Homo sapiens: one gene and its partner. The protein of the gene in region 1 interacts with the protein of each later gene in a biochemical or structural test. Each region holds a gene or a part of one and is shown in the gene's direction. Other genes may lie near its edges.

Region 1 (3,563 bases):
AGGGCTGTTTGCAGAATGATGCTAAGTGTATTCAGAAAGGAGGATTGGAATTCATCAGTAGGCTTGGGAGGTAAGGGAGATGGGTGGTGGAGGAACCCACAGTCAGCAGTGTGGGAACTCAGAAGTCCTGTCCTTTCTAGGAGTGAGTTCTGGACCCTGAGGAAGCCAGAAGCTCTCCCTACAAAGCTGAGAAGTATGTTCCGAGCCCCAGATCTGAAAAGGATGCTGCGAGTGTGTAGAGGTAAGGAGATTCAGGGGAAAGAGTTTGGATGTGAAATTACTGTCGTGGGAAGAAATAAACGGGATAGAGGCTATAGTCGGTATTTGAGCATAGTGGCAAAGAGGGAGGTCCCAGAGGGAGGGACATAGTGTGCTGAAGAAGATGCGGTTTGTATTTAAGGGGAGATGAAATGGCCAGGTGACATCCTCACAGGATTCCTCACCATTCCCCTCAATGTAGTAAGGAGAGAGATACCAGACATGAGACAGTTGGTCCTATTCAACATTATTGACTCTTTTCATCATTACAGAGCTGACAGATGTCCAAAGCTACTGGGGTAAGTAGAAGCCATGGCCTCTTTGGGCTGGCACATTCTGATCTCCTTTCACATGCCCTCCCCAGACATAGCCACACAGATCCTAGGTGTTGATGCCTCCCCCATCCCCGCCATATAGTTCCAGTTCCTCCAACCACTTCCTGTGTTTCCTCTTCTCAGCATAACGAGACCCATGTCCCCGTTCTCATCTGCTGATGTTGTACCTTTTCCTACAGTTGACGTGACCCTGAATCCACACACAGCTAATTTAAATCTTGTCCTGGCTAAAAACCGGAGACAAGTGAGGTTTGTGGGAGCTAAAGTATCTGGACCTTCCTGTCTGGAAAAGCATTATGACTGTAGTGTCCTGGGCTCCCAGCACTTCTCCTCTGGTAAGCATTACTGGGAGGTAGATGTGGCCAAGAAGACTGCCTGGATCCTGGGGGTATGCAGCAATTCACTGGGACCTACATTCTCTTTCAACCATTTTGCTCAAAATCACAGTGCTTACTCCAGGTATCAGCCTCAGAGTGGATACTGGGTGATTGGGTTACAGCATAACCATGAATATAGGGCCTATGAGGATTCTTCCCCTTCCCTGCTTCTCTCCATGACAGTGCCCCCTCGCCGTGTTGGGGTTTTCTTAGATTATGAGGCTGGTACTGTCTCCTTTTATAATGTCACAAACCATGGCTTCCCCATCTACACTTTCTCTAAATATTACTTTCCCACTACTCTTTGTCCATATTTTAATCCTTGCAACTGTGTAATTCCTATGACCCTGCGTCGTCCAAGCTCTTGAATATTCTTCTGTTCCCACCCACTTCTGATAAGTACCCTGAGGCTTATCAGCATGTGATTCTCCCTTCTGATCTTCTGTTTTTCTGTGTTCTCAATTCTTTTGTTGTTTTTTGGTTTTTGAATCTTTTTTGAGATGGAATCTCGCTCTGTCGCCCAGGCTGGAGTGCACTGGCGCAATCTCGGCTCACTGCAACCTCTGCCTCCTGGGTTCAAGCGAACCTCCTGCCTCAGCATCCCAAGTAGCTGGGATTACAGGCACCCACCACCATGCCCAACTAATTTTTGTATTTTTATAGAGATAGGGTTTCACCGTGTTGGCCAGGCTGATCTCGAACTCCTGACCGCAAGTGATCCACCCGCCTCGGTCTCCCAAAGTGCTGGGATTACAGATGTGAGCCGCCGCGCCCAGACAGTTCTTTCGTTTTAAACAGTTACTCAGTACTAGGATGCACCCAGTGGTGAGAGTAAGCATCTTTGACTGATGACAGGTCTTGAGGTGGATAGGGGGCGCTTTCAGTATTTTGCCATTAAGCATAGTATTTGATGCAGGTTTTTTTTGATTGATGCAGGGGATCAAATTTAGGAAGTTCTGATCTGTTAATTTACTACAAGTTTTTGTATAAAATGAAAACTCGTATTCTACCTATGTCTTTTCTGTAAATTATTGAGACAATTGTGTATCATTTTTGTTCTGTTAATGTGGCTTAGTACATTGATTTACTTCAATTTGTTACCACAACTTGCTGAAATACACCATTATTATTTGTTGTATGCAATACTGGATTTATTTTGATAACGTATTGTTTAGATTTTGTTCTCATCTATGTTAATGAAAGAAATTGGCCTGTATTTTTACATTCTTGTAATATCTTTGCCAGGTTCTATAAAATGCAATAATAAGCAAATAAATTACTTTGTTTTTGTATAAGTATGTATAGGATTGAGCTCTAAAACCAAACCATTATAATGATAATTTGGGTAGCTTCAAACTCAAATTGAAGAGAGTCTTCACTACAATCTTCACTACAACCTTTGGCCTTCCTCTCTACATTTAAGAGTAGCAATAGAACAATAAAAAAAAATACGTCTTTCAAATTAATTGCAGTAAAAACAAAAGAGTAGTGGGGAGAGAAAAACAATCCAATACATATTTTTCTCTCAGAATAGAAAGAAAACACAAAGAGAAAATATGAACAATATAAAGCACTTAAAGGAAGAGGATGATTTCTTCCAGCTTTTCCACACTCTCTTTATGCGCAGGAACAAACAGCTGTTGAGTGAGCTGCTATGACTTTGGTAGAGAGGTGCAATATGTTTTTTGAACCAGCTATAAAAGAAATTAAGAGGTACATGTGAGGGTAGAAACAAATATCAAGGATGAGAATGGCACTGGCTGTCCCATATGGTATCCAGGAGCCACCAATGTCTGTTGAGTACTTCATACATGCCTAGTCTGAATTGAGATGTGCTCAATGTATAAAATATATACCAGATTTCAAATACCTACTTCAAAAAATAATGTAAAATATCTCACTAATAACTTTTCCTTTGTGTATTGCAATGATAATATGTTGGCTCTATTGGATTAAATAAAGTATGTTATTCATTTTACCTGTTTCATTTTACTTTTTTAATGTGGATACTAGAAACCTTAAAATTACATATGTGGCTTACATTGTATTTCTATTGGACAACTCTGGAGTAGATCCTATAATGAAATTTCTGTCCCTAAGTGAGCCCTAGTGTAAAAGCCTATGGACTCAGGATACAGAGGAGGTTTCAAGGCACATATGTTTATCTCTACAGAACCTGCACCTTCCCAGCTGCCCTGAGGCATTTTTATGGAAGGTAATGACAGAGAAAAGAAGATCTCAACATATCTAGAAGTGTAGAAATTTGGAAGATCATAGAAAGGGCTCATGACCAGAGAATGATTCTGCAGACTCTGGCCCCTGCCGTTAGTCCTCAGTCTGTTGGGCACTTGAAGCTCCTTCATGGTTTGATGAAACACTGATTTGTTATCAAGGCTCAGCTTGGGTGTCTATGGTGAGATAAAGTAGTGCAGATTATAGTAAAAGCTCACTACTGGTTTGTTCTAAGGCACCGTTTTATAATATTTGGGAGATCATATCTGTGGAAGCCCAGAGGCTGGATGCAAACTCCTTATCCTGGTCTGCGTTTCAATTGGAAGAGATATAAAAGGAGATAGGGCCAGCTGACTGGGAC
Region 2 (3,655 bases), on another chromosome or scaffold:
TAATGGGTCAAGAGTCAGTCAGAAAAGGAAGACATGAATGTCTGCTAAATCATGCTCTTTTTTTTTTTTTTTTTTTTTGGTGCATACGAATCCCTCCGAGGTCTTGTTAAAATGTGGATTCTGATTCAGTAGGGCAATACGTTCCACACTTTGAGTAATATAGCTCTAAATTACATTGGAGGTCAACGCCAAATTGAGATTTTAAACTCAAAATGATTCTTTCAACTGTTTTAAAAGGTGAAGGGGAGTGGTTGTGAGAAATTTTAATAGAAGTTAAAAATCTTAGTGTTATGACCATTTTGTGGAGCTTTCACCATCAAAACTATAATCAGATTATGTGAAGATTCTAAGACTTTTTTGGTCTTAAAAAGGTATAAAAGATGTTGAAACAGAAGATCTTGAGGATAAGATGGAAACTTCTGACATACAGATTTTCTACCAAGAAGATCCAGAATGCCAGAATCTTAGTGAGAATTCATGTCCACCTTCAGGTACCTGGTATTGTTTGTCCTTTTCCATAATGGTGCTCTTCTGGTATTTGGTGTGGGGGCTTGTTTTGCAGTACCCAAAGTCACAGCCTTGTGAAAAGTTTTGTAAGGAAAATTAAGAAAGTAAAGAGAATTTATGTTACAATAGATACTTTTTCTATATTTAGAATGCCATTCTCTCCTAGTTCTTCCACTATCTTTTTTTCTTCTTTTACTATCTTTTTTTTCTTCTTCTACCACTAAGAAAGTATGGGCGTGTCTATATTGGAAATGCAAATAGAGTCTTCACCAAAACCCAATGTCTATGAATTCCCAAATCAACCTTGCTTTCTAAATAAATACTACTTCTATTTCTGAGTCACTTGCTCAATTTCCTTTTAGGATCCCTGGGCTGCCCTGCAAGTTGATGAAGTTAGTGTGCTACCCAAATGCGCCTGGCTGAGAGGTTGAGTAGGGGCTGAGATCCAGCCTGTGTCGTTTGCAACACAGTGCACTGAGGGGCTGTGTCCTCCAAGAGGAGCTCCCTTTTGTCATTTACACAAAGGCACTGTATAAGTTAGCTGTGGCCCTGTGAGGCCCCCTTATGCTTCTCAAAGCATATTTTCTTGATGGTTTTATGAGACCGGCAAGTTGCATAATATGCCATAATAAAAAGTTATGTATAAAAGAGTATCAGGAAGGAAATTGGGATTAATAGTGGTGGTAGAAGAAAAATGATATTAGAATAACATCATAAAGAGAAAATGTGCAGATTACGTCTGCAACTGAATGTTACAAGTTTTTTTGTTTTGTTTTGTTTTTTTGGTCATTTCAGAATAAAATCTGTTACCCCTTGGAAAAAAAAAACAGATACATGAATATGAGTTGCTTTAAATTTTCTGACACGTGAAGATTCTTGCATGCCTTTTGTTGTTGTTGTTGTTATTGTTTTTTGAGACTGAGTCTCTCGCTCTGTTGCTCAGGCTGGCGTGCAGTGGCACAATCTCAGCTCACTGCAACCTTGGGTTCAAGTGATTCTCCTGCCTCAGTCTCCCAAGTAGCTGGGACCACAGGCATGTGCCACCACATCTGGTTAATTTTTGTATTTTTTTTGGAGAGGTGGGGATTTCAGCATGTCGGCCAGGCTGTTCTTGAACTCCTGACCTCAAGTGATCCATCCACCTCAGCCTCCCAAGTGCTGGGATTACAGGCATGAGCCACTGCACCTGGCCTTTACATGTCTTTCGTGTGAGTTTAATTCACTTAACCTTTTAGAAATTCTCCCTTTCTCTAAAATGGGTAGGTTAGACTCAGTAGATAATTTCCAAAGTCTTTGCTAGCTCTTAATGATTTATATGCCTACCTGTTATTGAGATAAAGCCTTTGATTATTTTTTAAAACTTCTGGTTATGTTGAGAGAAAATATCATTTGAGAACTTGAAGAACGACAAAGCATTATTGCTCCTTAATAAGAAATTGCTTTGAGAATCCAATGTTAACAGTTTGGTTTTCTTCAAAGATCGTGGGAGGATTTGTTGCTTTTTTCACATACAGCATTGCCTTTAGTAGACAGCTTGTCTTACCCTGAATGGGGCCATTCTTTCTTTGGTTTCTGTTAGCCTTCCATGATTGTATAAAAAATAATTCATGTTTTTTTTTTTTTCTTTCTTGCCATCAATACTTTGTCACTGAGAGAATTCTGTACTTCAAATTAGTGGAAAAGCTAGAATGGTTACCAAGAGAAAGGATTCTAAACTTTCTCCAATGAGGATCTTCTTGCTGGAGTCAGAATTTGTGGACATTAGACTGTAGCTATTGCCGTGATTCCTCAGAGCAGGAACTGTTTGGTAATTTTGCTCCTTTTGTATTCCAGAAGTGTCTGATACAAACTTGTACAGCCCATTTAAACCAAGAAATTACCAATTAGAGCTTGCTTTGCCTGCTATGAAAGGAAAAAACACAATAATATGTGCTCCTACAGGTAAGCCTATTGCCATTACTTACATAGTTTTTCTGTTTGCTTCCTTTTTTTTCTTTTGTTGAATACTGGGACAGAATGGGCAAGTTTCAGTTTTTTCCTTGTTCCATGTGTCTTTTGAGAAAACTGTCCTAATATAATCCTAATGTTTTTTATGGGATTATGTAATTAATTAATTATGTACATTAATGTATTTAATGTATTTTCTTTACCTTTCATGAGAAGGTAAAGAAAAGTGTCCTCTTTTAGCTTGCTTTTGGGTCCTGGCTGTTGGCATGCTACTTAGGGAGCAGCTTGATATTTTTTAGTCATAGTGTAAATTCTGTAATCATTAACATATTTAAATTATCAATTAATTAGTCAGCTCAGTGGTATTAGAAGAGCCAAAAATAAACACCTTTCCAGAGAAATATCTAATATATGAGTTACATGTTTTCTTTTTTCCTTACATGTTAAAAGGTTGTGGAAAAACCTTTGTTTCACTGCTTATATGTGAACATCATCTTAAAAAATTCCCACAAGGACAAAAGGGGAAAGTTGTCTTTTTTGCGAATCAGATCCCAGTGTATGAACAGCAGAAATCTGTATTCTCAAAATACTTTGAAAGACATGGGTAGGTATAATAGTTGCTTCAACTTCTTTTTCTCCAGCTTCATGTAATTGATGTGTTTTCTGTTTTGTTTTTGACAAATGATTTAAAAAAATTTATATTAGATTCAGCTTTTTTATAATCCAGATGTTATCCCTTCATGGATTCAAGTCTTTTTTGTTAGATGTACCAGAAAACTTAAACTCCCCTGGTTTGCCCTTCTATGGGGAGTAAATGACTTCAGGAATAAATTTGATGTTTACGTGGCACATTTAACTTCTTTAGTGATTTTATAATTTATTTGATATTATTCTTTTACGTACTCTTTTCTCTCTTAGTGACTTAAAATAATATATAGTACTATAAATTACAACTAGCTTGGATTTATTGATCTCTTACTATGTGTCAGGCTCTGTGCTAAGGACTTGCCTACAGCTATTCTTCTTTTGGACTCAGGGAGAATTTAATCAGTTGATGTTCTGATCTAGCATTTCATCTTTGTGGTTCCTTATCCACATCGTGGTTAGTAATATGGAATTTCTGTCATTTCCCAGGTATAGAGTTACAGGCATTTCTGGAGCAACAGCTGAGAATGTCCCAGTGGAACAGATTGTTGAGAAC

The links. The genes of interacting proteins can lie anywhere in the genome.
Region 2: the proteins of TRIM6 (region 1) and RIGI form a complex in vitro, tested with the Homo sapiens proteins (one study listed by BioGRID).

The regions. Positions count from the first base shown.
Region 1 is NC_000011.10:5,610,005-5,613,567, forward strand, and holds the end of TRIM6 (tripartite motif-containing protein 6), read left to right. Parts: intron 1-140; coding exon 141-241; intron 242-530; coding exon 531-557; intron 558-772; coding exon 773-1,338; 3' UTR 1,339-2,948; downstream 2,949-3,563. Other genes in the region: TRIM6-TRIM34 (tripartite motif-containing 6 and tripartite motif-containing 34), read left to right, coding at 141-241, 531-557.
Region 2 is NC_000009.12:32,488,137-32,491,791, reverse strand, and holds part of RIGI (antiviral innate immune response receptor RIG-I), read left to right. Parts: intron 1-371; coding exon 372-491; intron 492-2,340; coding exon 2,341-2,448; intron 2,449-2,904; coding exon 2,905-3,058; intron 3,059-3,588; coding exon 3,589-3,655.